Homo sapiens: one gene and its partners. The protein of the gene in region 3 interacts with the protein of the main gene of each other region in a pairwise test. Each region holds a gene or a part of one and is shown on either strand. Other genes may lie near its edges. The genes, in order: PTS, TNKS, SDCBP and HSF2BP.

Region 1 (7,777 bases), on a different chromosome or scaffold from region 3:
AAGAGTGGAACTCCATCTCAAAAAAAAAAACAACAACAACAAAAAAAAACTTTATCAGTGCTTTACACATTAATAACTTTTATGAATTTATGTATTTTAGTTCTGTACAAATACCATTAGATATTACATGTAAGTGAGTACACTGAGACTGAGATACCATAGATTAAGGAAGAGGCTGTAGCTAAACCAGTAATCCTAATCTCCTGACACCTTGTCTGTTTTTTTTTATGCCACCACACCACATACTGTTTTATACTCTACGACTTATGTACCTGTTTTTTAAGGCAGGCTGTACCTCAAAGAATCAAGTCTCTTATCCTTGAACAAATTACCTACTTTCTTCGAACACTGCTGGCAAAGCTTTAGACCAAACCTATTTTTCTGCCATACATTACATTCCTAGGCAACATTCCCCTTTTGTCAGTCATTATTTACTCAAAGAATAAAATCTAATTTTAACATTAGCCTTGGCCATACCTAATCAGAAAGAAACTTGTTGTGTACTCTAGGACAAAGAAAAATGCTTTAAACCATTCATTGTTTTGGACTGTTTGTAAGAGTTGACATTGCAAGGTAAAACTTAACACACACCCAACCAAGACAACAGATCCTTTCATTCTGAACTCCCATTTAATTTCTCATTCAAGGCTCAAAGCATTCACACTGTGTCCGTAAGTTTTCCCATTCTTTATGTCTACATTTGCTGAATACTCTTTCATCCTTATTGAAGGGCTGAAATGTCATCAGTTTTTCTCTCACCTTTATAATTGTGCCCATGGCCATTTGGATTGTTGCATTTCCCAAACAGTTTCAAGTTTTCTTCATCACTTAGAAATTTACTGACCAAAAAAAAAAAAAAAAGTCAGCATGACACAAGTATCACATTCAAACCCCCTTCTCTGTTCCTTATATTTATTATTTGTACTGATCTTTGAAAAGTTTCCCAATTTATTACTTTAGCTCACCAAAGGGAGAGTCAGAAATCATGTTGATTTTATTACTTACGTATACGTCACAAACCATGGCATATTCCCTAATTAGAAGATTGTACCATACAAATTAGCACAAACAAACCTTAACTTCAACCCCCTTGTTCCACAGCAACTGATCTGCTCATGGGCCTTCCACTTTTCAATTCAACATTACTGAGTGCCTACAATGTAACAGGCAAGTGCTGAATGAAATAACAGCATATAATGATAAACATAGATGGTGATCCGCAAAGTGGCTTACTATCTCATTTCTCTCAGAAGCTAAACTACTCATCCAGAAAAAATAATTTAAAAAAATTACATGACCTGGTAAGTCTCCTATTTAGCAATCTTGCTTTATACTATGTCTCAACTACTGCCTCATGAGAACTTTACCAATCTGTTGAGGAATATTCCAAGCAGGTGAATTTTTAAAATTACAATCTTTGGCTGTCGTCTCAGACAGAAAACAAATTGCTTAATGTTTATACTTATACCCATCCATTCAATTTCGCATCGTCTATGAGACCTTACCACCCTCAGGTGTTTAAGCTTATTATACAACCCCTTTTTTTTGAGATCCTCTTTATTATTCCCCCCAATGTAGTTTGGATGTTTGTCCCCTCCAATTGTCATGTTGAAATGTGATCCCCAGTGTTGGAGATGGGGCCTAGTGGGAGATGTTTGGCTCATGGAAGTGGATCCCTTATGAATGGCTTGGTGCCCTCCCTGAAGCAATGAGTGAGTTCTCGCTCTATTAGTCAATGGGCGAGCTGGTTGTTAAAAAAAGCCTGGCACCTCCTCTCCTCTCTCTTGCTCCCTCACTTGCCCTGTGAGTTGCCTGCTTGCTCGCCCTTCGCCTTCCACCATGAGTGGAAGGTCCCTGAGGCCTCAACAGAAGCAGATGCTGGTGCCATGCTTCTTGTACAGCCTGCAGAACCAAATAAACCTCTTTTCTTTATAAAATACCAGTCTCAGTATTCCTTTGTGGCAATGCAAAATGGAATAACACACCCCCACTTTCTCCTGCTCAGCCACTTCTTGTATTTAGAGTGCTAAAGTCTTTTGCACAAAATTTTCTCAGTGTACCCTCCACAAAATAGGCCAGATTGGAAACCCCATACAAGATCCCTGATGCATCCGTTACCTAGCACAAGCCCTGACAAGCACGAAACAAAACCTGGTTTAGCGAATGGAGGGATGAATCCTGTTAGATAGCGATGGTCATCCTCATTTCACAGACGACGATACGGAGGGCCAGAGGGTGGAGCTGGTTAGTGCGTGGTAAAATTCCTCAAAATCAACTCGTCAGTGCATGCAAGCAGTATGTATGATCGGGATTCAAATCCCAACTATGCTGCTTCGGAAACTGAACGTCTGGGCTCATTTTTTTTTTTTTTTCTCCTAGCCACTAGACCACCAGGGACTGGGTTCATCCAGTCTTTGGTAAAAAAGGGGCTAAAATTTGCCTTGTAATTACATTAGATATGGTGGCCAATGCTCCTGGCATACAAGATTAGCTAACATTTACTGAGTGTCTACGCCGCGCCAGGTACTGTGTAACATAGGCGAGTTTAACACTGCTGAGTTTCACAGCAACCCTGTGGTCTACACCAAGGGACTCCTAGGGGCAGAGACGTTTCTTCGAGTCGCAGAACCGGGTGTGGGCCCCGCACCCAGACGTGGGCCATCGCCCTCCGCAGTCGGCTCCGTTAACCATCAAGCTCCCCCACCCCTCCAGGGCTGGGGACACTCCAGCCCCCATCAGGATGCTGGAGGCCGTCCGAAGCCCCACGAAGCCGACCAGCGCGCGTCGCCCCAGCAGCCCCCGCGCCCCTCCCGGGCCCGACGTCAGCACGCCCGCCGGCCCCGCCCCGGTGACGTTCCGGGGCCCGGCGCCCACCGCCCGCCGCTGTACCTGTGTGCACACCCTACCTGTACAATCGGTGGCTCGCGCTGAAGGAGATGCGGCGGGACACTTGTGCCTGGCAGCGACGGCCACCACCTTCCGTGCTCATCTTCCCGGCGCTGTCTGCGGTGCTCGGCCGGCACCTCCTCCCGCCGCGCGGCCGGTGCCTCCTCCCACCGCGGCTGCGCAGTGCGTGCCAGACGCGCCCCTAGGAAGTGCGTCTCCGCTTCCGCTCTGGCCAATCCCGGCCTCGGGAGACAGTTAAGGGTGTCTCTCGCTATCTGAATCTCTTCGGAGAGCAAGATTTGGGATACCTAAGCATACCCTGGAGTGGTCAGGGTGGGTGGGGACCCTGTGTCCTTGATCTGTTTGCCCCGCCTGAGGTCACGCCACGTAGTTAGGGCCCGTCTGGGCACACTTTGGGTCCTGAGTGACCTCTCTGAGCCTCCTCTCCCACTCTCTCCTGTAAAGCTCCAGTGACTGGTGACTCAATCGGATGAACCCCAGGGCCACAGTCCGCTTTATAGACCAAAAGGAGCAGGAATTGAGCCAGGCGGGCGTGGTGACGCACTCCTGTAGCCCCAGCTATTGAGAAGGAGAGGGATCACTTCAGCCCAGGAGTCCAACCTGGGCAATAGAGCAAGACCCTCGTTTCTCTTTTTCTTTTTTCTTTTTAATTATTATTATACTTTAAGTTCTAGGGTACATGTGCACAACGTGCAGGTTTGTTACATAGGTATTCATGTGTTATGTTGGTTTGCTGCACCCATCAACTCGTCATTTACATTAGGTATTTCTCCTAATGCTATCCCTCCCCCAGCCCCCTACTCCCTGACAGGCACCGGTGTGTGATGTTCCCCACCCTGTGTCCATGTGTTCTCATTGTTTGATTCCCACCTATGGGTGAGAACATGCAGTGTTTGGTTTTCTGTCCTTGTGATAGTTTGCTGAGAATGATGGTTTCCAGCTTCATCCATGTCCCTGCAAAGGACATGAATTCATCGTTTTTATGGCTGCATAATATTCCATGGTGTACATGTGCCACATTTTCTTAATCCAGTCTATCATTAATGGACATTTGGGTTGGTTCCAAGTCTTTGCAATTGTGAATAGTGCCACAATAAACATACAGGTGCATGTGTCTTTAAAGTAGCATGATTTATAATCCTTTGGGTATATACCCAGTAATGGGATGGCTGGGTCAAATGATATTTCTAGTTCTAGATCCTTGAGGAATCGTCACACTGTCTTCCACAATGGTTGAACTCATTTACACTCCCACCAACAGTGTAAAAGCATTCCTATTTCTCCACATCCTCTCCAACATCTGTTGTTTCCCAACTTTTTAATGATCGCCATTCTAACTGGTGTGAAATGGTATCTCATTGTGGTTTTGATTGGCATTTCTCTGATGGCCAGTGATGATGAGCATTTTTTCATGTGTCTGTTGGCTGCAGAAATGTCTTCTTTTGAGAAGTGTCTGTTCATATGCTTTGCCCACTTTTTGATGGGGTTGTTTGATTTTTTTTCTTATAAATTTGTTTAAGTTCTTTGTAGATTCTGGATATTAGCCCTTTGTCAGATGGGTAGATTGCAAAAATTTTCTCCCATTCTGTAGGTTGCCTGTTCACTCTGATGGTAGATTCTTTTGCCGTACAGAAGCTCTTTAGTTTAATTAGATCCCTTTTGTCTATTTTGGCTTTTGTTGCCATTGCTTTTGGTGTTGTAGTCATGAAGTCCTTGCCCATGCCTATGTCCTGAATGGCATTGCCTAGGCTTTCTTCTAGGGTTTTTATGGTTTTCGGTCTGATATTTAAGTCTTTAATCCATCTTGAGTTAATTTTTGTGTAAGGTGTAAGGAAGGGATCCAGTTTCAGCTTTCTACATATGGCTAGCCAGTTTTCCCAGCACCATTTATTTAATAGGGAATCCTTTCCCCATTTCTTGTTTTTATCAGGTTTGTCTAAGATCAGATGGTTGTAGATGTGTGGTGTTATTTCTGAGGCCTCTGTTGTGTTCCATTGGTGTATATATCTGTTTTGGTACCCATACCATGCTGTTTTTGTTACTGTAGGCTTGTAGTATAGTTCGAAGTCAGGTAGCGTGATGCCTCCAGCTTTGTTCTTTTTGCTTAGGATTAATACCGTTTCTTTAAAAAAAAATTTTTAAAGAGCAAGAATTTGAGAGCACAAATAGGACCACGTGACAACAGTCCTTTGGACTGTTGTGTAATGATCCTTACTAAGGGAAATTCTAAAGCCATTCTTATCCACAAGCATGTATGGACCCATTTATTACTCTGGGTTGGCATAGTGTGAATACAGACACCCCTAAACACATATTAGCAATTCTTCTGCCAGTGTAGACACATTGAGAGTGAAAGGATCTTGTTTCCTCACATCTACTCACAAGAGTAACCAAACTACACACAGTTCCCAGAATCATGTCACCTCTTGCTTCCATTCACTCTTTCACTAAATATTTATTGGGCATCTACTATGTGGCTGGCATTGTTCCAGGTACTGGAGAGGACAGCTCCACTCTATATGAGAAAAATCATCACTGTATATGATGAAAAGCAGGACAAGTCACTGATTAATAACAGGCTTGGAAAAGTTTCCTGTAAAAAGAAAGATAAAATCATGGGGGCGATAGAAATAAGCTCAAATGGTGATTTCCCTCAAATATCTCCTATTTACAGCTATATATTCTGTTTGTTCTGCATTAAACTACTAACAGGTTATTTAGCAAACACTCTCCATACATTTTCAGATGTTTGTCTCATCTACCCCATTGTACTGTAAAGAAAAAACTTCAAATAACATTTAGAGATTTTCGAGATAGAGACTGTTTAGTTCAATACTTTCACTTTACAGATAAGAAAATACAGCCACAGATAAGTGAATTACTATTGCGAGATCACTCAGAACAGAAACATTATTTCCCAGGTATGGACTGCCTCAGTGATAAATACTCTCTAACAGTCAGTGGTTACACAAATAGTTGCTCATTCCAAAACCAGCTTAAAGAATCAAAATAAAGTGAAAGAGTAAGAGAAATTTCTGCAAAATTATTTTTATTAATAATACTTGTTTGTTTTAGTAAAATATTTCACTGCATTTGCAGAGTTGAAGTTTAACCTGTTTGGAAATAGGATTGTTGCACACGTATTGAGATGAGGTGTTTAGGATGGGACCTAATCCAACATGACTAATGTTCTTGTAGAAAGGGGAAACTTGGACTCAAAAACTGACACATACAGAGGGAAGATCATGTGAAGACACAGACAACACCATCTCCAAGCCCAGGAGAGAGAACTGGAACAGATCTTTCTTCAAAGCCCTCAGAAGGAAAAAACCAACTTTGATTTCAGACTTCTAGCTTCCAGAATTGTGAGACAATTCATTTCTGTTAAGACCTCTGTGGTACTTTGTTATGGCAGCCCTAGCAGACTAACACACTAACCAATAAGCAAATAACATTCCTCTTAACTTAGCTTTCAGTGCCTTGAGATCAACAGCCATTTAGGTATAGTTCTCCCTTCACTCTTGCAACATTTACTGGCTTGTGCTTGGCTGCGTTGTCTCAGAAGGCTAGCTTCTACTAAAAGATCCCATAAGGGCCCCTGGCCAGCCTTCCTGCCTCAACTCCCCTGCTGTCTCCAGGGGCAGGTGGCAGGCATGGGTACCTGCATTTCACTGGAGTGGGTTCTTGGATCTCTGAGGGGAAGGAACAGCAGAAGAGGCCCTTCTTCCTCACCCAAGATGCAGGTGGTTGGGGCCAGGAGTTTGGACCCTCCAGGTCTTGGGGGAATAGCTGGGTAATACCTGGTGTCTGAGCGATTCTCTGCAGACCCTTCCCCTCCTCAAGGACCACCCATCCTCCTTTCAGCCCCCTTTATGGGGGCCGGGCAGCTCTGGAGCCAGCCACAGAGTCTCTTACAGAAGCAAGGCCTGGAGTGGCCTGCACCAAGAAGCAGGGTCAGGGTTCGTGTGCTCCTCCTCCTGCCACAGGGGCCGCACATCCCATTGCCCCACTTCTGCTTTCTGTCTCCCTCTGTCTAGCTTCTAGGGCAGGAGCAGGCCCCACCTAGGGCTGCAGGCAGTTTGGCCTGTGCCAGCACGGGCTCCTGTGCCCACCAGCCTCACAGGTGCTGTGCTTTGTGCTCTTGGCTGCTGTGCTGGGACAGAATGGGATGCCAGGAAGAGAAGAAGAAGAAAGGGGGTGCAGTCTGAGGCCACCACCCTCCTTCCTATCTAAGGGAGGGCTGAAGACAAGGGGCTGGCATTCAGTGGGTAACAGAAAGGAGAGGCCCCTTGAAGCTGCTCAGTCAAAGGGCCCCTGTCCCTCCTTTTGCTCTCCCCAGGACTAAAGACCTGAAGGGGCTGGGTGTGGGGCTGGCTTTTGGAGTGTCAAGGTGAATATGTGGGAGCAGAGATCATGAATAACTCAGGGCAGTGAATGGCGCACCAAGGGCAGGGCTGTGTGTGGGAGGCTGCGGCCAAAATTGCCTCAGCTCCTCCCCCTCAGGCTGGGAGGCTGGGGGCTGGGGGTGGGGGTGGAGGGTCTCAGCTCTGCTGCCCCCACCCCAGTACTAGCCTAGCTTCCCAAGCTGGGGCTTAGAGGATAGTTGGCTTCCTGCCTCTCTCCACTAAAACAGCAAGTCTGGGAAATCCTGGGGCGAGTGGAGTCAACCCACACCCCAGTTGCTGGCAGAGACTGAGACTAAAGCATCACTTAATAAATACCCCCAAGCCCCCCCACCAAAAAAAAGATCCCATAAGGTACTCCAATGGACATATATTGGCAAGGTAGGCCCCATATCTATCACCTTCTGGTCCTCATTCACTTATTAAGTTAAAAAAAAAGTGTTTATTTAACATCTAATGAATGCCAA
Region 2 (7,621 bases), about 49 Mb from region 3:
TGATAAAGAAGACTAAAGTTTAATAAAACTTTAATGTTACGAATTCAATCACGGAAGCGTGGCAAACTGACTACAGGACATTATGTTTTCATATCGAGAATTTTATTACTGTGTTTTCCACAACTGAGCTAAAAACTTTCTTAAAAAGCCAATTCAAGGTTAGCTTGTCATAACTACAACATAATTACGGTACTGTTTGATTGTTTATCTTCTAGCTTATCTGGATATACATAAAACTCTGAAACAGAATAACAAGTAACTATTGTGGCAAATAGAAGACACGTGATTTGAGAAACAAGCACTATTTTGTGTGACTTATCCTAAATACATTAATACACATAAATATAACTATCATTTATTGGTGATTACGCATAAAGTGGGATGGTGAGAAATGACATGATTTGTGACGCAATTTGTTAAAATAGGCAAACTTGGAATAAAGTATGCAAAAGTAGACACCTCTGTTGATTAATAAAATCAGACTTAGGCCTTTCATTTAGCCTAAGGAAAAAGAAATGCTATTTCATCTAAAACAAGCAAGACCCTTGAGCAAACAAATAGGCAAAAGTCTGTTTCTGATTCAATTCACTGCATTCCTAATAAGTAGTGTCTGTATATCAATAATGAATCCAGTGACCTAACAATGATTTCCTTTAAGTGTTTCTCATACCACTGGTCACGACCCATTAATGGATCACAAGCAGCATTTGCTAAAAATGAAACAGAATAAAATATAAAATATCAGAGGACAACACATGTATTAAGGGAAAGTATTGTTTCCAGAAACTTTTGATTCAGTTGCGTATGTGACAATGTAAAATGTATTTCTAAGTATGGGCTACAATAAAAAACATGTGAAAGCTACTCTCTTGCATATAAGCCCCTCCGCATTACTACTTCTCCCAAAAATTGGGAACTCTACACTTCAATTACTCACAAAAATGAAAAGTGACCTTAATCCAGGGTTCTGACAGTTTAAGTTTGATTTCACAAGCTCTAAAATCAAACTGCCTGAATTCAAACTCAATTTCCACTATTTCCTGACTGAATTTGGACTTATTTAAGCGATCGATATATGCTTCACTTTTGTCATCTGTAAAATGGTTAATCATATCTCCCAAGTGTGGTAAAAATAAATACTACAGTGGGTCAACACATGTTTTACTGTTAACAGAACAAACTGAAGAAGTGATATATATATATATTAGAAATATAGGAGAAACTTAACAGAAGTTATCTCTGGTGTGTTATCTCTGATGTTTCTGTGTGATGCCTTTCATTTTGTATTTTTCTGTCCTATTTGAATTGTATAACGTACAATATATGTATTTCCAATATAATGTTTCTAATGTATAAAACATTATTACCTACATTTTTAAAATATCAACAATAGGTATCCAGGCAGTGAGATTATGGTCCTTTGTTTTTATTTTACAGTTCTCTTTATTTTATAAACATATTATTAGGTGTCTTTGAGAGAAAATCATCAACTACTTGCAAAAAAAAAAAAAAAGACAAGTGTGGGGTCCAGAGCTTAAGAAATTCACACTTTTTGAGGGAGAACTTTGTGCCAGATACTTCTCACCAAATGCTCGCACAACATCATTTTATGATTTTTGCCCATGAGAAAACTGAGGCAACTGACACGAGGTAAATGGTCTGCTAGACAACAAATAATAGTGGCCACAACATCAAAGCCTATATTTCTTCCATCATCATATAATGCATCCAAATATTCTTCTCCAGTTGTTTCACATTGGCATATTTTGGTCTCCCCGTCTAGACTGCAAACTTCTTTAGAAGAAGGGAAACTTTCAAACACTTCATTTATGTCTTTCATTGGGTTATTAAGGCTACAATAGATCCTCAAACATGTGTTGGGTTGTATTAAACCTCTTTTGGTCTGGACTGTCCTCAAAGGACATACCCTTGTAAAAACAAAATAAACTAGCACACAAACGACAAAACTACTCTAAAGCTGTCCAAATCTAACTGTATTCCTGCACACCAAAAACTAAAGTGTAAATATATCCATATGCAGAGACTACCAACTACAGTGAGTTTTGTAATGAGTACTGTGCAACCACTGAAGAATTCCTTGGATTCACTTATCCCCCCCAACCACGCCCCCATCACCCAGGCACCACCAAAAGAAAGGAACCTCCAGTCTTCTGGTGAGGTGATGAAGAACCATAACCACGCCCCCACTTTGTCCCATCACAATAACCTGTTTTCTTGTCCTAACCGGACCCTGCACCCAAACCCATAACCCTTAATAAACAATTCAAAAGTCTCTGACCTGCAGCGAAGTGCAGGGGAGAAGACTTCCGGCCGGCCATGTCCTTTGCATTTACGTTTGCCGCGTCCACCAGCCTCTTTACCCGGGACACGTCCCCATTGCGACAGGCCTCCAGCAGTTCCCGTAGGGCCCCGCTCACTGCTGGGACCCCTGTCCCAGGTCCTGCTGCCCCAGGCCCCAGTGGTGCTGTGCTGCTAACTCCGGCCGCCTCGGGGCTCTCCGCCAAGCTCGATCCAGGGGAGGATGGAGAGGAAGATGAGGAAGAAGTCGGGGAAGAAGAGGACGACGGTGAATTGTTACTGCCACTGCCGGCTGGGTTGGGAGCGACCCCAGCGGCAGATGAAGTAGAAACCGCTGGGACCACGGGAGCGGCGGCGACGGTACAGATTGTGCTGGTGGTACTGCAACAGCTGGTACCGTCAACCGGGTCCGGGGATCGGGGCCTGTCGGGCGGATCCCGACTGCCATCCCCCTCCGGCAGCGCTAGGCCGTGCCGCGGGGAGGCGAAGGGGGCCAGGCCGCTGGCCGTGGGAGAGGCTGGGGTGGTCCCCGGGGCCAGGCCAGGGCTGAGTGGGGGAGGAGGTGGCGGCGGCGGCGCTGAAGCCCCTGGGGCGGGCTGGAGCTGTTGTTGATGATGGTGGTGATGATGCTGAGAGCGACGCGACGCCGCCATCTTCGGACTCCCCTAGCACTGTCACTGCGGCAACGGCCCCCACCGCCCGCCCTCACTTCCGACTGTCGGACCAATCAGCATCCAGCGCACAGGAAATGATGCTAGGCGGGGTAGCAGGGGCCAAAGAGAAGGAGGGAAGTATTGGGAGCTCAGAGAACAGCCAAGGGAACGGGGCGGGGCTTTGTCACTGAGAGGCGGGCTTTGTGACGTGGTGGCGGGCCGGCTGGAGAGATTTGAATGCTGGAACCAGCTTCTGCCTAGATGGGAAACATTTCCTGCATTTCTCACTTTCAGTCGGCTTTCTTTGCCCTGCTCCGCTCTGTTTCCCTTAGTCTCCCTTTGCTTGCTCCAGAGCCAGCTGTTGAGATGCAGATCAGAGCAAGCAGGGAATGTGTCCGTTATCATCTATTAAGCGTCCTTGTCTGAAAAATGGAACTTATAGTACCAACCTCACAGAATTATTAGCGGGATTAAAAGAGCTAACAGACAAAGCGCTCTGCCAGTAAAACACAAGTATAATTAGCCCGTTGGTAATTTTTTAAATTATAGTATTTCTTTTCCAGGTGTCCCCTTGAGCTCTTGTCCCTTCCCTATAATTTTTCTCACCCTATGTGCTTTAATTCCTCGTTTTTAAATGCTGGTTCAGATTGCTAGGATTGGCGTTCCAGCTCTGCCATTTGTTGTTTATATATGTACTTGCTATTTCATCACTCTATGCCTGTTTTTCTCTGTAAAATTGAAATAACAATAGTGCAATAAGTGTGAATTATTAAAATTATGATTTTTTTTTCCTATTCTGCTCTCTCTGAAATTTTATTTTTCACCCTAAGTGTAACTAATTATGAATATATTCCTTTCTTTTGAATTCTGGCTTAGCTTAGCCTCTCCCACACCCGAAACAGATAAAAACCTGATTGCTAGGCTGGTCACGGTGGCTCATGCCTGTAATCCTAGCACTTTGGGAGGCCGAGGCCGGCGGGCCACTTGAGCCCGGGAGTTCAAGATCAGCCTGGCCATCACGGCGAAGCTCCATCTCTACAAAAAATACACAGATTAGCTGGGCAAAGTGGCACATGCGTGTAGTCCCAGCTACTCAGGAGTCTGTTGGGAGGATCACTTGAGCCCGGGAGGCAGAGGTTGCTGTGAGCCGAGGTCACACCACTGCACTCCAGCCTGGGTGACAGAGGGCGGAGACCCTGTCACAAAAACAACAAGAAAACATAACAAAAACCTGATTGCTGTCCATTACTCACCATCAGGTGCTATTTTTCAGCAACTGCTTTTTCTGTCTTTCCCCCAACCTATGTATACTTTTGTTTTTCTACTATCAAAAGATGTATCCATGAATGAGATAATCCCATTGAGGACTCCATTTCATACCTACTGTTCAATAGTAAAGCAGGCATTGTAGAAGTATACAGAAACAGCATTATTCCAATAGAGTGGACACAGATGGAAATTCTGTAAGAGAAACAAGATTTAGATGAGTCAAGCAGAATATTAAACTAGGTGATAAATTGTTTCATGTGTTCATTGTTAAATATGATTTATGTGATGTTAATATTCCCATTTAAGTAAATAGATGAGTTTATTTGGGGTTAGTAAGTAAATACAATAAGGTCAGGAACATAATTAGTATTACGAGTGGCATTTATTTTCATCTAATCTGGGGTTACAGATTATAATTCTTAACATTATCCAGCTGTGTGATGAAATGTGCCATTGTTCGCAGTAGACACCGGACAAAAAGTGTAGCTGGATAGGAAAACTCACATCAGTGCAACTAAAATCAGTCCACAACATTCTTCTTCATGCTTCTGTTTTTTAATCTTAACTTCTTGATGTACAGCAGAGAACCATTGAGAAGTGGGAGTGATCCAACATGATATGTTAGATATCCATAACACACCATGTGTCCCCTAAATAATGGCCTCCTGGAATGGGAGGCATAAGAAATATCTCATCTGGTCTCCCAGTGGTCAGTTACTCATAGAAAGTAGTGATGTTCAGACTTATTCAAAATGCATCTGTTGTGTCTATCAGTACAAAAAATAATAATAACAATAAAATAAGGAAGTCTCTGCTGGACAGAGATTTTTAAAAACTAAATTGCCGGCCAGGCCCAGTAGCTCACACCTGTAATCCCAGCACTTTGGGAGGCCAAGGTGGGCAGATCACGAGGTCAGGAGTTCCAGACCAGCCTGGCCAACATGAGGAAACCCCATCTCTACTAAAAATACAAAAATTAGTTGGGCGTGGTGGTGCGCGCCTGTAATCCCAGCTACTGCGGAGGCTGAGGCAGGAGGATGGCTTGAACCCAGGAGGCAGAGGTTGCAGTGAGCCGAAATCGTGCCACTGCACTCCAGCCTGGGTGGCAGAGCAACATTGTCTCAGCAAAACAAACAAACAAACAAAAAACAAAAAACTAAATTGCCTGAAACTGGACTGGAAAACCATGTCTGGAAATGCATTCAATCAACTGGAAATTGCTTTCTTCCCCTCGAGCAGAAAGTAGGAAAAGTACTTAACATTAAGTATTTATGAAGTTTGGGTTTATACCGACTAATGTTGAGCTCCAAACATGAAAGGACACATGCTATTACCTAATCTTCTGTGGCTAAACACAATTCCAGGAGGAATGCACTATATCATAGTGGAAAGAGCAAAGCTTGGGGTCAAACAAACCTGGGCTTGAAAGTCACATCTCTGATGATTACTAGTTGGCTAATCTTGATAGGTATGCTTCAGCTCTCTCAGCCTAAAATGTTGACCTTAGTTTAGCACTGTCATGAGGATTAAAAGCCTAGGTGTTTTTTAAGCACTCTTTGAATGTTAGATCCGTTCTCTTACATGGCATGCATAAAGTGTTAACATGAACTCACAGCCACTATTGATAGCTTTCCCCTCGCAACTTCCTTTGTGACAAAGATAGGGGCTGGGAATAAATATCCATCGTTTTACACAGAATGGGAATCTAAAGCAAAGAAACATTAGGTTTAATTCTTTCCTTATCTGATAATTCAGGATTCTTTATAAACTCTGTCTCTAAACTATTGTTGATCACAGGTGTGTAGTATCTTATTTTCATAAGCGTTTTCACAAAAACAATATCCTGGCCGAGTACAGTGGCTCACACTTATAATCCCAGCATTTTGGGAAGCTGAGGCAGGAGAATGCTTGATCCCAAAAAATCAAGATCAAAGATCAGCCTGGGCAACAAAGTGAGACCCTGTCTACACACACACACACACACACACACACACACAAAGTATACCCAAGTACTACAAAAATGGGAGCACATAGCACTCTCTTAGGCTATACTGTTGACACAAAAGAAAAGCCACCAACTCAAAGGACACCGATCTTTTGGGCTGTGTTCTGATGTTTGCTTTCTTACCCTATGGGGTTCGCATGGACACTCTGAAAATTACACAATCATGAACTTGCACAAGTTCCATATTTCAACTGGAATTGGTGTGTCATTCCATCCATATACTTCCCATTGATCTCCCACCGTATTTGGTATTCTGGTAGTATTTCTACTAAGTCTAGTTATTCTTCGATCCCCTCTGCAATGCCTCCTCCGCAAATCCACGAGCACAAGCCAGAGCTGTGGTTTGGCTGAGGCATGTCATTTCCTCATTTTTGGTCTTACCGAAACATAATAAGTTATTTTTATGTCAGAAATGTCTATGGTGCCAAGGGCCCAGATTTCTCTATAAAAGTGTTGCGTTCTCTTAGTTGAAGTTCCATCCAGAAACCCAGGTGAATATTTTTTTACAAAACCACAGATGGGCAATGATGCCAACAGCTGCAATCGTACTAACAACATTGTATCAGAAAAAGCTTTACCAAAAAAAAAACAGGTAAAACAACTTATTACAAGACAGCAAAATTACAGTAATTTAAAGATATCCTCTGTATCAGTTTCTTAGCAACTCTCCCATTAAAGTTTTAGTAGCTTTATAAGATAGCTCTTACATACCAGGGTCTTCTGGCTGCTGCTCCAAAGACATCTGTAGCCTGCACTGAGATAACTTGGATTTTTTCTGGCTATGGTCTGTACGCTCATGGGTAGTCGGTTTAATTTGAAGTGTTAGTTCCAGGCAGAGAGTTAGTTCCGGGCAGAGAGGTGGTTAAAGGTGTGGATTCCACATACAGACTGCTTGGATATGAATCCTAGCTTTGTCACTAACTAGCTTCGTATGATTAAAGGATATTACATCATACATTTTAACAGGAATAAATAAAAATCTATTTGCTGTGCTTTAAAAAAAGAAGATAAACAAGTTTTCCCACCAAAAATGTTCCTTTCCTTGTAAGCTTTTTTTCCAAAAGTAATTAAAATCATACATGTATACCCCATTACGGATTTGCATATGACTATATCACTCAAAAGAGATAAACACCTGCCCTCCCCCAAAGTCATAACCATGTTTAGAAAAGGCTCAGAAAGTCCTGAAATGCATGGATATGGAAGGGTATAACTAGCCAACAACGCATATATAATGATGTAATGGCTTATGCAGATGGATATAGCTAACCAGAATAGAGCTGATGCAACTGCAAACCAAGAGACTGCAAGGCACCCAGAGGACTCACCCTCCCCAATCAGAACATGGGGACAACCCACCAAGCCATGATGAATG
Region 3 (7,022 bases):
ATTCTGCTATGAAAATGAATGAAATACTGATACATGCTCCAACACAGATGAACCTTGAACATATGCTATGTGAAAGAAGCCAGATGCAGAAGGCCACATATTCTAAGATTCTAGATTAAGTATCCAGAGCAGGTAAAAACAGAGGCGGGAAAGTGTATGTTGCCTGGAGCTGGAAGGAGGGTAGAATGGGGAGGCATGAGTTTTCTTTTGGGGAGGATGGAAATATTCAAAGATAGGTAGTGGAGATGATTGTAGAAGTCTGTGAATATACTAAAAACCATTGCATTATATACTTTGAAAGGCTGAATTTTAGAGTGTGTGAATTAAATTTAAAAAAAAAACTATCTCATACTGTCCAACTAGGAGACAGAGACCATATAGTGATTTTAACAGTGGAGGTTTAATACACAGAATTACTAGTTATAACATGATTGAAGAAATAGAAATTGACTTGTAAGAAGTAAAGACAACTTTTAAGAATACTGTAAGAGCAGACTTAATAAGTAGCCACTAACTCTAGGGCTGTTCCCATACTGGGGCTGAGATTCAGGTCTGGTTGAAGAGGGGACAGATGTCACTGGCAGATGCTGAAGTTGCCGGATACCATGCTTCTGGAACTTATTCTCCCTCTGGCATTCTGAACCTTGGAATTTGCTGCAGAAGCCACGTGAAGGGGTTGAGAAAGCTGCTCAGGGAGATTCCTTGGTGGTGGCATTCTGCTGCAGAGTTACTCAATAGAGTGCTGGGGTGAGCTTCTGCATGCTTGTGAAACTACTCCTGGCAGGAGTCTGGCTAGAGTAGTACGTTGGAACCATGAAGAGAAAAGCTCTTCCTCCTACAGTGTACCTCCAGTTGCCTCTACTGACAAGGCTTAACATCATGCCAGCTGGTAACAGAGCAATGTTGAAAGAGCTCAGCTCCATTTTGGGAGAGAAAGCAATAAGAAGTGGATTTGGAAATGGGAGGTAATAAATTGATACCTGAATCAAGAATCTTACGTTAAACCACATACCAGTTTAGCATATATTCTGTTTTATTGGGTTGAGTGAAAGTATCAGGTATTCATCTCAAAACAGCTAAATAAAATTTAAAATATGCATTCATATAATACATTTAGAGAATTGTGTTTTAAATTATTACAAAAAGCAATTTATAACTAAAAAACATACTTCTACTTAATACAGAAGTATTTTAAATGAAAAGTAAAAATTTCCCTCTTATTCCTCACTCCTTTACCATCTGTCTTCTGAAGAAAAATCTGTTAGCAGTTGATATAGTTTCTTCTGTATACATATATGTGTGTATATATTTTTCTTAGTAATAGAGGTTCATGTATTGATACTGCATATGATCTGCTTTTAGGCTTTTATTGTTAGAAGGAAATGTAGCTGTGTAATGCCCAAGGGCATTGTACTAAGGGTAGTTTCCTAGTCCTGGCTAAGTTGCAAGTACTTGTGTAAGTTAGGAGTAAGTCACATAACTATTCTATTTGATTTTCTAAATTTGTAAAATGAAGGGACTTTTACTTGAATTTTAAAAATCGGTGATGGATATAGTTCAATAATACTATTAGGGGAAGGAGAGGTAGTTTGGTAATTCTTAAGTATCAGCTAACTTTTAGTATGGCCTATATATTCTTATTTTTTAATATGTTTTGCAATTTAAATGTTTTTTATTGAGTTAAATAGTTCTACTTGTTTATGTGTCTGTGGTTAGCTGTGTATACTATTTCAATTTCTATGACATTAGAGTAATAAAACTTTCTTTTTTTCTTTAGAAGAATCCTGCAAAAATGTCTCTCTATCCATCTCTCGAAGACTTGAAGGTAGACAAAGTAATTCAGGTATGATAGTTTAAATACTTTTGTCAAAACAAACACAGTAACATGCATTCTACTTATAGGTGAAATAAAGCAAGATAGCTAAATAGCAGATATATTTGTTCATTTTTACACTTCATAAACCTTTTTTTAGTTTTATTAATTGCAGACTGAAAAGTTTACAGAAAAATTAGCAATTTTTTTTTTCATTTCACTGTGAATTAATAGGCATGAGATTTTTTTAATTCGACTTACACTTTTTACATTTCTGGTTAAAATTTAATTATATGTAACATATTTGAGTTGACAAAATATACTCCAATTTTGTAGATATTCATAGTTTTGTATAAAATTGGTATATTTTTCTTTTGGATCTTTAGGTATGACCACTCTTTAATTCTATGTCTCTTAACTGAAGTTAAAATTACAGAAATAGTGGCGTACATGCTGCTTTTAGAAGAGCAGTCATGTAAGAGCACAGGGAAAGTGTAGTGATTTCTTTCCTTTGAGAGATGAGCAGCAGACATTTCACTTGTTCATTCTCTAAATGACTGTGTAGAGATTGCAGTATTTCTAATTGCATTGAGTTGAAAATTTTTATACTCCTTTGTATAAGTATTAGCTTTGAAGACAAATGCTTCTGCTTAAGAACAAAGTGAGGAATTGGGACCAATTCTGGCTAATTGGGAAATTTTTGGTAATTATTTTAATTGGGGGTAATTTGTAGTATATGATGAATTTGTTTACGGTTAGCTTTCAACTTGATCTCTTATCAATTTAGAATTTCTTCAGCCGTTGTTTATTGTTTTAATTTGACAAGATAAACGAAAACTCCTTACCCTGAAGATCATTTTATTGGGTCCCTGTCTTCAATTTACTAGAAAGTGAGATATTCAATTTACTTACTGATAATTGAATTATGAACAATTATTTTCTATCATAGATCCAGTATGGATATTAAAATGAGGTTTGTAAAATCTCTAAAATCTACAGTTCAGCTGCCAAGGCTTTGATGCCTCAAAGTTTCAAGTGGCCTATTCAGTCATCTTTTACATGTTCCTATCACTTCTTTAGTATTTTGTCAGTATTTTCTTCATGTGGTTTTTATTTCCACATAGTTCATCTAAACAAGCACTTTTCTTTTTAAAAGGCCTTTATCTGAAATATTTAGCTTTCCAGAATAACTGCTTAGCCATTAATATGACATCAATACATTAACTGATAAGGATTTTTAGATGGACCTGTAAGAATGACTAATCTGTTCTTTGTTTTCATCCTTTTTTTGTTAGCTTTTTATGGAATTGAATGTAAATTCACCATAGTCAGATATGAGCTGAGGCTTTTGGTTTTGAAAACAGCAGCAGCAGAAGAGTTGATATTGACAAATATTGGAATGAAAAATAAAGAGGGCTACAATCTGTATCATGCTGCCCTCTTTAAGCAGAAGTGAATTACATAGATATTTACATTAAAGAACGTTTTATGTTCAGAGCAGAAAGCAGCTGGGAGATAGAACAGTGAATAAGGAGTGGGAAACATGGTTCTTTTATTACCCCTGAATTTAAAAATATTCCTAATTTAGCCATTAAACTCTTTGGCTGTTTTTGTTTTGTTTTGTTTTGTTTTTTTGCATCATTTTCTAAGGTGGATGATACTCATGTTTGTTTTTATTCTTAAGATTCTCCTGAAACGGTATTATGAAGGAAGGTAGTATTCATTTTCTCATCTGCTGGCCTTTAACACCACAGCAAAGCTAAATTACAGCAATGAACCAACCATTCATATTTTGTAAACTATTCTGCAGTAGCCACTAGGCTGTGGCTTTTAGCATCATACAGTCCCTAGACCTTTTTCTCTCCATTCCAAATCCTGACAAGAGCCTGTGGTTTCCTCTACTTATGCAAAGTAAGCTTTTAATAAATAATGATATACAGAACCAGAGCTTATCAGTTTCCTAATATGGTGGGCAGAATTTGGCAGCAGTGACGCTACAAGCATGTTTTTTCCACATCCTTTCTGTTAATGGCAGAAACAATAGGCCCTGGCATGCTCCTTGGGGCACCCCAACCCCTTTTTTTAGTAGTGTCACATTTCAAAGTAAGTTTGAAATAAGTAGCTACATTTAATGGTTTACAGTACTTAAAATTGGGTTACATCCTTTTGTTTCATTTTTACTGCAAATAACATAATTAAATTTAACTTTGCAGGGAGCTTTCTATATGTATTCTTCAGTATTCCTTGGATTAAAAACAATAGCAATGAAAGAACAGAAATTCATAACTACATACAAAGGAGAAGTATTTTAAATTAATAAGCTGTGTTTTAGAGCAATTTTAGATTCACAACAAAATTGATCAGAAAGTACAGTATACCTTCTGTCCTCACACATGCACAACCTCCCCCAGTATCAGCATCTGCACCAGAGCAGTACATCTGGCTCATTAATATCACCTGAAGTCTACATATTTACATTACATCACATTAGGGTTCACTGTTGGTGTTATATGTTCTGTGGATTTTGACAAATGTATAGTGACGTGTATATAGTCATGTGTTGCTTAAAGACGGATATGTTCTGAGAAATGCCTCATTAGACAGTTTTGTCGTGCAAACATTATAGAGTGTACTTCCACAAATGTAGATGGCATAGCCTACTACACATCTAGGCAGTATGGTATAGTCTGTTGTTCCTATGCTACAAACCTGTATGATCCCACCTGTATGATACAGTAATACTGCATGTTACTGTACTGAATACTGTAGGCAATTGTTACACAATAGTATTTGTGTATCTAAACACAGAAAAGGTATGGTAAAAATACAATGTAAAAGATTTAAAATGGTACATCTGTATAAGGCACTTACCATGAATGGAGCTTCCAGGACTAGAAGTTGCGCTGGGTAAGTCAGTGAGTGAGCGGTGAGTGAATGTGAGGCCTAGGACATTATTGTATACTGCTGTAGACTTTATCAATACTCTATACTTGGGCTGCACTAAATTTATTTAAAAATTTTTCTTTCTCGAATTATAAATTAACCTTAGCTTCCTGTAACTTTAATTTTTTAACTTTCTGACTCTTGTAATAACATAGTTTAAAACACAAACATTGTACAGCTGTATAAAATATTTTCTTTCTTTATATCCTGATTCTATAAGCTTTTTTCCTATTTTTTAAATTTTTAGTTTTTAAAAATCGCTTGTAAGTTTGTTAAAAACTGAGACACACACTCACATTAGCCTAGGCCTGCACAGGGTCAGGATCATCAATATCACTGTCTTCCACCTCCACATCATCCCACTGAAAGGTCTTCAGAGGCAGTAACATGCATGGAGTTGTCATTTCCAATGGTAATAGTGCCTTCTGGAATACCTCCTGAAGGACCTGCCTGAGACTGTTTTACAGTTAACTTTTTTTGTAAGTAGAAGGATATACTCTAAAGGGTATAACACAGGAAATACATAAATGAGTAACATAGTCATTTATTATTATCAAGTATTATGTACCATGCATAATTGTAGATGCTATACTTTTTTATATATGACTGGCAGTGCAGTAAGCTTATTTACACCACCATCACCACAAAGTAATGAGTTGTTCTGTGTGACGGCAGCTATGATGTCACTAGACAGTAGGAATTTTTTAGCTCTTTTATAATCTCATGGGACCACTATTGTATATGTGGTTCATCATTGACCAGAACAGGCAGCACATGACTGTATACCATTGTAGCATTAGACAGAATAGGTTCACTGCTCGAAAAATTCTTTAATGCCTGTTCTTCCTTCCCTTCTAGAAACTCCTGGCAACCAATAATTTGCTTTTGCTTTTGTGTTTTCTTTAGCGTCAGGATGTCGCTCTGTTGCCCAGGCTGGAGTACAGTGGCACAGTCATGGTTCACTGCAGCGTCCATCCTCCTGCCACAGCCTTCTAAGTAGCTGGGACTACAGGCATGCACCACCACACCTAGCTAGTTTAAAAAGAAAATTTTTTTTTCCCCCAAAACGGAGTCTGGCTCTGTCACCAGGCTGGAGTGCAGTGGTGCGATCTTGGCTCACTGCAACCTCCTCCTCCTGGGTTCAAGCAATTCTCCCTGCCTCAGCCTCCCGGGTAGCTGGAATTAACAGGCATCCACCACCATGCCCGGCTAATTTTTGTATGTTTACTAGAGACAGGGTTTTGCCATGTTGGCCATGACAAACATGACAACATGCCATGTTGGTCAGTTGAACTCCTGACTTCAGGTGATCTGCCCACCTCAGCCTACCAAAGTGCTGGGATTACAGGCATGAGCCACTGTGCCTGGCCAAAACAATTTTTTGCATAGGCAGGGTTTTCCTATGTTGCCCAGGCTGGTCTTGAACTCCAGGCCTCAAGCAACTCTCCAGCTTCAGCTTCCCAAAGTGCTGGGATTAAAGGCCTCAGCCACTGTGCCTGGCCTAATATTTTATTATCTCCACAATTTTGCATTTTTCAAAATGTCGTATAGTTGGAATCATAAAGTATGTAGCCTTTTGAGATTGGCTTCTTTCACTTAGTAATATCCACTTAAGTTTCCTCCATGTCTTTTCATGTCTTTATAGTTCTTTTTTTTTTCCCAGTGCCGCACAGTATTTTTTTTGTTAGACATGATTCAAGAAGTAATATAACAAGCCACTAGCTCCTTTTAGCTAATCGGTGGTGAAAGAACTTTCAAAGTTCAACACATGTTCAATTTGTGGATTGTTATTTATAATTATAAAGATTTTCATGCTGTATTTTGTTTAAATCTAGAATGTTTAACAAATTATGAAATAATAAATATTAAAGGATGACTCAACAAGTATATCAGAACATATAATTTTAGTACCATTCAAAGCTTTCATAGGCTTTACTTATTTAAACTAAGCTTTCATATCTCCAAGCATCTTTGGGAATACTCTTGACATTGATTTTAGGGCTAGGTTGAGATACTACTATGAACTTCATTTTTAAAATGATACATTTCCAATAAAGTAAAAAGTTGGTAGAGATTGGTCATACAACTTATTACCAAACTTGTCTCTAATGACATATAGCTATTTCAGAAAGTCAGATCTAATTGTAAAGGATAAAGTATTTCCATCAGTGAGATACTTCATATGATGTAGGCCATCAAGACAGCCCTGAGAAGAGGATACTTGAGCATGAGTAGCATTGATAAATGCTAGAGTGTCAGAGTGTGT
Region 4 (7,686 bases), on a different chromosome or scaffold from region 3:
ATTTTGTTCCCTTTTAAAACATCTATTTTCCATTTATGTCTGTGTGTGTGTGTTCACCTAGGAATCTAATAAAAACAAGCCACCAATTTTTGAAGTATTCAAAGTAAAAGAGAGAAATGCTCATTACTGAATTACTTTCAAAGCTCTGAAAGGCAAAGTACATTATCTGAAGCAGTTTGGTTTCATCAGTCTTGTCTTCTCTATTTTCTTCTTGGGGCTAAATTTCTTAAACTTAATACTACTGTTTTTACAACAATACAATATAGGTTTATTTATTTCAAAATGAATGAGGTAGGCCAGGTACAGTGGCTCACTTCTGTAATCCCAGCACTTTGGGAGACCGAGGTGGGCAGATCACCTGAGGTCAGGAGTTCAAGACCAGCCTGGCCATCATAGAGTGAAACCCTGTCTCTACTAAAAAAATACAAAAATTAGCTGGGCATGGTGGTGCATGCCTGTAGTCCCAGCTACTTGGGAAGCTGAGGCAGGATAATCGCTTGAACCTGGGAGGTGGAGGTTGCAGTGAGCCGAGATTGTGCCACTGCACTCCAGCCTGGGCGACAGAGCAAGTCTCTGTCTCTCAAAAAAACAAAAACAAAGGCTGGGCACGGTGTGGCTCACACCTGTAATCCCAGCACTTTGAGAGGCCTAGGCGGGCGGATCATGAGGTCAGGAGCTCAAGACCAGCCTGGCCAACATGGTGAAACACCGTCTCTACTAAAAACACAAAAATTAGCCAGGCGTGGTGGTGGGCGCTCGCTACTCGGGAGGGTGAGGCGGGAGAATTGCTTGAAACTGGAAGGTGGAGGTTGCAGTTAGCAGAGATCGCGCTGTTGCACTTCAGCCTGGGTGAAAGAGTGAAACTCTGTCTCAAAAAACAAAAACACACAAAACAAACGAGGTAAACATCAAAGTGAGACATGTAGACATGTGAAATATTAGTAAGTTTTGAAATGAGCAAATCCAACAGCCACTCTCACCACGCAATGAGCCCAGAAGCCATTTTAGATGGGGGTAAAGTGTTAAACTTGAACACACCCCAGTGTCAGAACATCCACAACTTCTATTTATTATAACTCTTGGATAGAGAGAACCCTAACCCCATCATTATAAAAAAACTTATATCCTCCATCATCTACACTGAATCTAATATAGCATCAACCATAAGATGTACTGTTATTTTGTATGCTGCCAAAAAGAAAGCAATGATACAAATGAAATTGTCACTGGGTTGATTTTGGGATGCCTCCCCATTTTAGTCAATATTTTTAAAGTTGCAGAACTGATAAGATAGGCAGGGATGGTCTGTTTTGTTCACTGCTATATTCCCAGTGCCAAGAATAGCGTACATAATAGTACACAGTTGGCACTCCATAAATGTTTGCTAAATATATGAATGAATGAATGAATTGGGACAAATAAGCTCTTATGGATGAAAGCCATGGAGAGTGATCATTTTATGACTGTGAGCACCCAACTTGAACAGTTAAAGCAAGAGCGCAACACTGTTACTTAAAGCAATACAAAGATTTCCAATTTATTTTTAAAATGACAAAGCTATCTATTGATGTTGCTGCAGAACAGCTCATGTTTCAGGAAGAGTGATAGCTCACATTTCCTTTATGATGCCTAAGACAAGATGCAGAAAAGTTGGAGCCTGTCATCGGGAGTCGAATGTCAGGCCAAGTTATTTCCAAACTTGTGCTGTAATTGTGATGGGGCATAGCTGTGGTGGAGACCTTGTGTTTTCTTGTCCCATTATCACTGTCCACGACGTTCATGCTGCGGAGTTATTTTCTGAAGGTCCACTGTACTCCATGCAATGTGGTGGTGAACAAGATATACAAGACAAGTCACTCTGGGTGTGATAGGCACTAACCAGACAGGACTCTGGAGCACTGGTGTAAACTGGTCTTAGGCCCCCGCATAACCTCTGCATTTGCAAATCCTGGGCTGGCTCACCAAAGGGTTTGAGCAAAAGGCTCTGTCTAGGCTGTCTTAGCACCGTAAGTATTGCCTCTGGTCTTCCACTCTTGTACAGGCCAAGACCTTTTACGGTTGCATGTACTCCCACTTCTGGCTAAGAAAACAGATGGAAGCTTACGGTGTTTCGGGAGAAGGATGACACATTGATAATTAAGAAGCAATGTAGCTAAGTGCTACAACAGAGACACAATGGATGTTTTAGAACCCTGGAGGAGTAGGGCAAGATGCTAGGCGAGGCTTTTTGAAGGAAGTGATACTGAACTGAATGCTGGCAGTGAAGAAGGTGTGGGATTCTTTGCAGAGTGAACAGGAGAAGCAAAGGCAGAGAGGTGAGAAATTGTGTGCTGTACACCAAGAACCATCACCGATTCTGTTGACGGAACATGAAGCAGTTACACGGGGCTTAGGCAGGAAGAGCACCTGAGGACAGATCATGACTTGCAGACACTGAATTTCAAAAAATATTGGTGATGTGGGATCAGATTTGTTTTAGGAAGATGACCCTGGGCTGGTCTGTGGAGGACAGATTCCTGGGGACACAAGTGAAGTTAAGGAGACCAGTTGGGGAATATGCGGGCGCAGAAGTTTCGGTGAGATACAAAGAGCCCACGGTCAAGAATTTATGTCATCAGGAGGTGAACGAGGGAGGACGGGGGTCCTCCCACTGGATGTGGGCCAGGGGAAGAGGATGAGGAATTCAGAGGAGTCCAGGACAATCCCGTGTGTCCGGCTGGAATCTGAATGGCTGGTGGGAACCAGCAACCAAAAGAAAAGAAAACAGGTGGCAGTGGAGCAGCAGCAGAGAACAGGATTTCGGGGAAAGAAAACAGAACTTTTTTTGGCATCCTGAGTGTGAGGTGCCAGGTAGAGAAGCCAGGCTAGCAAGGCACATCCGAGCTGCAAGTAGGAATGGGCTGGGACAACAATTTAGGTTTAGAAACCACCAGCATATATGGGGTACCTGGAACTGTGAGACTAAACAAAATCTCTTGGGGAGATTCTTAACAGAATCAAAGTCAGGAATTTTGGTCTTTATTCCTTTTTCTATCAGACTTCCCAGGAAAGTGTATTTTCTTTTTTTGGGTAGTCTGGTGATTTCTCTTAAAAATAAAACAAACTGAGAATGTCAGTGATGGGGGAGATAATATCTGTTCTTTTAAGCAGATTCTAAATGTATTAGTACCATCAGTAACTAAATAAAACTTTATCTTAAAACCTCTATTACACATTGTAGTTCATATTGTATGGGCTCACTCAAGAGTTTATAGAAAGTATTTTTGGATCAGGTAAATGAAATCATCCAACAGCAGTGCCGTTAAAATCTAAACTACAAAGCCCTGTGTGATCTGGCCACTGCCTACATCTCCAACTTCATCTCATAACACTCGCCCCCCCAACCCCAACTTATTGGTCTTTCAAACCACTCCTAGGGCACGTGAAGCTCTTTCCTGCCTCTGCATAGGCGGTTTCCGCTCATTTCTCTTCAGATCTGAGCTGATTATCAGCCCAGAGAGGCCTTCCCAGAACAGCCTATCAAGAAGAGCAACCTCCTTCCCTTTTTGCTATTATCTGGTTTTCTTTTTCCTTTTTTCTTTTCTTTTCTTTTTGAGACGGAGTTTCGCTCTTGTTGCCCAGGCCGGAGTGCAATGCTGCGATCTCGGCTCACCGCAACCTCCGCCTCCCAGGTTCAAGCGATTCTCCTGCCTCAGCCTCCCGAGTACTGAGATTACAGGCATGCGCCACCATGCCCGGCTAATTCTGTATTTTTAGTAGAGCCGGGGTTTCACCATGTTGGTCCGGCTGGTCTCGAACTCCCGACCTCAGGTGATCCGCCCGCCTCGGCTTCCCAGAGTGCTGGGATTACATGCGTGAGACACCGCGCCCGGCCTGCTACCTGGTTTTCATTTCCTTTACTACACTTACACAAGGTCTACTTTATTTGCCTGTTTGCCTCCTTGCTTTATTACTAATAGATCCTCGAGGGTAGTGATTTTGTCTGTCTTCTCTCCTGCAGCCCCGTCACGTAAAGGTGCTGGTCAAAGGAAGGCGGCAATCACCGACCGGACACCAGGGCAAATCAGGGCAGCCCAGTGATTCGAGATGCCGGCTGGGGAATCGGACCCATGTGGGTCTTTTCTCAGCTTCCCCGCTTACTGTGACTTTCATAAGTAACGGAACCCCCTCAACCCGTTTCCTTAAGTGTAAAAAGGCACTAGACACAGCAAGAAGCGGTTCCGGCAGCGCGGAAACCGAAGCACACGCTGGGTGTCACGACAACACGTGGAAGCCGCATTCCGTGCCGGGGCCCTGGCCCTAGCCCCAGCCCCGGCCCCCGGCCCGCCATGTGGCGCGGCTGACCGCGGCCGTGCGCCCACCTGTCTCCCTCTGCGTCTTCACGCTGATGTACTGGCGCAGCTTCTTCACCGCTCGGTCCCGGATGCCCTTCTCGCTGGACGCCAGCCGCTGGGCAAATTGGATCTCGGCCGGCTGCATGGCGGGGGCCATCGCGCCCGCTGGAGCATCCCCGGCCGCGCAACCCGCGGTGCCGCTGCAGCCAGCCGAGCGCTGCGGAGCAGCCAGCCACCGTCCGCCCGGGCCGCGACTGCACAGAAGGCGGCGGCGGCGGCGCGCGGGCTGATGGCGTCACAAAGGCGCCGCGGCTCGCAGCGCGCTCTGGGAGTGAGCGCGGCAGTGGCCCTGGCAGCTGGCGGAGCGGCCCAGCCCGTGTGCACGTGGCGCCGGCGCTGCCTTTCGGTTGCCAAAATTCAGGCTGTAGACGGCGAGGTTAGCCAGGGTTAGGACTTGACCAGGAAGAGACGGAAGGCTGTTTGTAAACGGTCTAGGATTTTTTGTTTGTTTTTGAGACAGGGTCTCCCTCTGTCGCCCAGGCTGGAATGCAGTGGCGCGATCTTGGCGGTGATCCTGGCTCACTGCAGCCTCGACCTCCCAGACTCGATCGATCCTCCCATCTCGACCGCCCAAGTAGCTGAGACTACAGGCGCGCGCCATCACGCCCCACTATTTGTTATTTTTTTGTAGAGACGGTGTCTCGCTATGTTGCCCAAGCTGGTCTCAAACTCCTGGGCTCAAGCAATCCTCCCGCGGCGGCCTCCCTGATCGCTGGGATTACAGGCTTGAGCCGCCGCGCCTGGCCACGGTCCAGGATCTTTAATCCCATTTAGCACACCTCGTTGAGCCAGCAGCTTACCTGCGATCTCCGTGGCGTGGAGTTTTTAACTGTGGAGCCCCCGGGCCCCCGGGTGGAGTTGAGACTGGAAGGAAAGGCCGGCACTGGGGCCTGTTGAGCGGGTGGAGGGCTCGCCTTCCTCCAGTGCCTGCAGAGGCTTGGGCAGATCGGTGCGCCCCTACCCCGGAGCCCTGGTGCCAGTGCAAGGGCGCCCGCGCAGGCGTCCCGAGGCCTGGCGAGCACGCGCGCTTCCAGGGGAGTTGGGCAGGGCGGGCTGCTTGCTAATTCCAGAGAGGGAAGAAATCTTAGCTTTGGGTTCATCTAAAACCCGAGGCCATCCTATATTTTGCGGACTCAGCGGGCGTGCTGGGGCAAGTTAATGGACTAGGTCACTCCACACGTAGCGGGGGTTATCTCAGTTGCTCCGCTCAGTTGTCTAGGCGACCTCCCGAGGTGCCTGTTGACACAAAAATTCAACCCTTAACGTAAAAGCGCCTGAATCCGAGCGAGGGAAGGCGCGCGGAGGCGAGGTTTCCAGCAAAGACTGCCCATTTGAACGCAGTCCCCCTTAGTGTAGCATTCCTCGCCAAACAGGAAAGGACCCATCCGATTTATTTTACTTGACACTTACATCAGGGGCTGACTTTCCTTCTGCTTTGCAGATAACAAGTTTAAAACCCCGGCTAAGCCAGAAGAGCCAAAGAGGGACCTCGCCAAGGCCACTCCTCGCTCTCTAGGCCGAGAATACTGCGCAAATTCTGGGAGGTTTGGGCCTGGCGGCTCTCCGTTCCCGACCCCCGGCGTGGATTCGTTCCCGCGCTTTCTGGCGTGAGGGGTCAGAGGGCGCGCCGACGCTCAGGCGAACGGAGCGGAGGCGGCAGCGGCCATGGGCGAAGCGGGCGCCGCTGAGGAGGCCTGCCGGGTTAGTGAGGAAGCCCTGGCCGACGCCAGCGTGTTTGAACCGTCGCCATTCGCTCCCCTCAGGGCCTCGCCCCGTGCGCTCGGAGACGGCTCGCTGTCGCGTGCTTGGGGGAAGCCTGGAGACTTCCTCCCCTAACGGCGTGGGCTGGGCCGGAGCGGGGTGGAGACCTGGGGCGGGAGGCGACTTCGCCTCCAAACCCACGCGGGGACCCGGTCTGTGAGGCTGCGCGTGGTGGGGGCACTCAGTGGCGCCAAAGCGGGCATGGGAGCGTGGGATGGATGGTCACTCTCTTCTCTGCTCCGTGGAAGCCCAGTTCCCCTCCGAAGGCCCTGGCCCCCTGCTTCGGGACTTAGCGTCAGGCTTAGAGAGAATCTGCCCTCCATCGATTTTATAACTGTAACTGATTGCATGCGATGGAGAAGGCGCTTGGACTGGGGCCAGATCCGTGTTCACATCCTGCTTCCACCCGTTATTAATTGTGCTGCATTGAGAGTCATCTAGCTCCCGTGCCTTAATTTCCATCTAGACAATCTTGGAGGCTTGGGGTGAATAGTAGATGAGATCACGGGCGGAGGGCTTGGCAAACCCAGTAGGAAACCAGATGACTTCCTTTTCCTCCTGATTAGTTTGGTGCTGCAGTGATAAAAAGTTGCAGGCGTTTTCTTTGACTTTTAGGAATAGAGCTCTTGTATGACTTTTCTTTTTCGTGGTCTTGCTCTGTTGCCCAGACTGGAGTGCAGTGGCACGATCATAGCTCACTGCAGCCTCCAACTCCTGAGCTCAAGCCTTCTTCCCGTGTCAGCCTGCTGCGTACAGGCGCCGGCCACCACACCTGGCTAATTTTTGTATTTTTAGTGAGATGGAGTTTCACCATACTGGTCAGGCTGGTCTTGAACTCCTGACCTCAGGTGATCCACCCGCCTCGGCCTCCCAAAGTGCTGGGATTACAGGCGTGAGCCACTGCGCCGGGCCTCCTGGGCACGTTTTCATATTTTTGTAGTGACAGGGTCTCTCCATGTTGCTCAGACTGGTCTTGAACTCCTGGCCTCCCAAATTCCTGGGATTTCAAGTGTGAGCCACCATGCCTGGCCTGTTTGTCCTTATTATTTTTAACATCTGGCTCCCTTTTTGAAGGCTGAAGCTTCAGCTTTCAAAATGTTTGTATGTACATAAAATATATCTATAGCAGAATATACAGTAGGTAGAGACATGATTTGAAACAACGATGCACATAAGAGGTGTGAAAGAAAAGCAAGTTAACTTGAGCTGTTGTTTTTTTTCTCATGTGAAGAGAAATATAATAAGATCTGCTTGTTCTTTTAGCACATGGGAACTAAAGAGGAATTTGTTAAAGTCAGAAAGAAGGATCTGGAACGGCTGACAACTGAAGTGATGCAAATACGGGACTTCTTACCCAGAATACTAAATGGGGAGGTGCTGGAGAGCTTCCAGAAATTAAAGATTGTAGAAAAAAGTGAGTCTTCATTTTCAGCAGTCATTGGTGGTAACAGTAATTTGTTCTAGCAGATTTACCCTAGGTAAATAATTGTAAACGAATTTTAAGGTACTCTTACAGTCCTTGTGATGATAT

Evidence for each region.
Region 1: the proteins of SDCBP (region 3) and PTS interact in binary tests that used the Homo sapiens proteins (3 or more experiments, as listed by UniProt).
Region 2: the proteins of SDCBP (region 3) and TNKS interact in binary tests that used the Homo sapiens proteins (3 or more experiments, as listed by UniProt).
Region 4: the proteins of SDCBP (region 3) and HSF2BP interact in binary tests that used the Homo sapiens proteins (3 or more experiments, as listed by UniProt).

What each region holds. Positions count from the first base shown.
Region 1 is NC_000011.10:112,221,656-112,229,432, reverse strand, and holds the start of PTS (6-pyruvoyl tetrahydrobiopterin synthase), read right to left. Parts: upstream 3,006-7,777; 5' UTR 2,990-3,005; coding exon 2,907-2,989; intron 840-2,906; coding exon 760-839; intron 1-759. UniProt on the Homo sapiens protein: Involved in the biosynthesis of tetrahydrobiopterin, an essential cofactor of aromatic amino acid hydroxylases. Catalyzes the transformation of 7,8-dihydroneopterin triphosphate into 6-pyruvoyl tetrahydropterin.
Region 2 is NC_000008.11:9,551,291-9,558,911, reverse strand, and holds the start of TNKS (poly [ADP-ribose] polymerase tankyrase-1), read right to left. Parts: upstream 3,001-7,621; 5' UTR 2,973-3,000; coding exon 2,300-2,972; intron 1-2,299.
Region 3 is NC_000008.11:58,563,242-58,570,263, forward strand, and holds part of SDCBP (syntenin-1), read left to right. Parts: intron 1-1,777; coding exon of another isoform or gene 1,778-1,792; coding exon 1,793-1,843; intron 1,844-7,022. UniProt on the Homo sapiens protein: Multifunctional adapter protein involved in diverse array of functions including trafficking of transmembrane proteins, neuro and immunomodulation, exosome biogenesis, and tumorigenesis.
Region 4 is NC_000021.9:43,656,470-43,664,155, reverse strand, and holds the start of HSF2BP (heat shock factor 2-binding protein), read left to right. Parts: upstream 1-4,667; 5' UTR 4,668-4,770; exon of another isoform or gene 4,771-5,835; 5' UTR 5,836-6,059; coding exon 6,060-6,095; intron 6,096-7,418; coding exon 7,419-7,569; intron 7,570-7,686. Other genes in the region: RRP1B (ribosomal RNA processing protein 1 homolog B), read right to left, coding at 4,362-4,491. UniProt on the Homo sapiens protein: Meiotic recombination factor component of recombination bridges involved in meiotic double-strand break repair.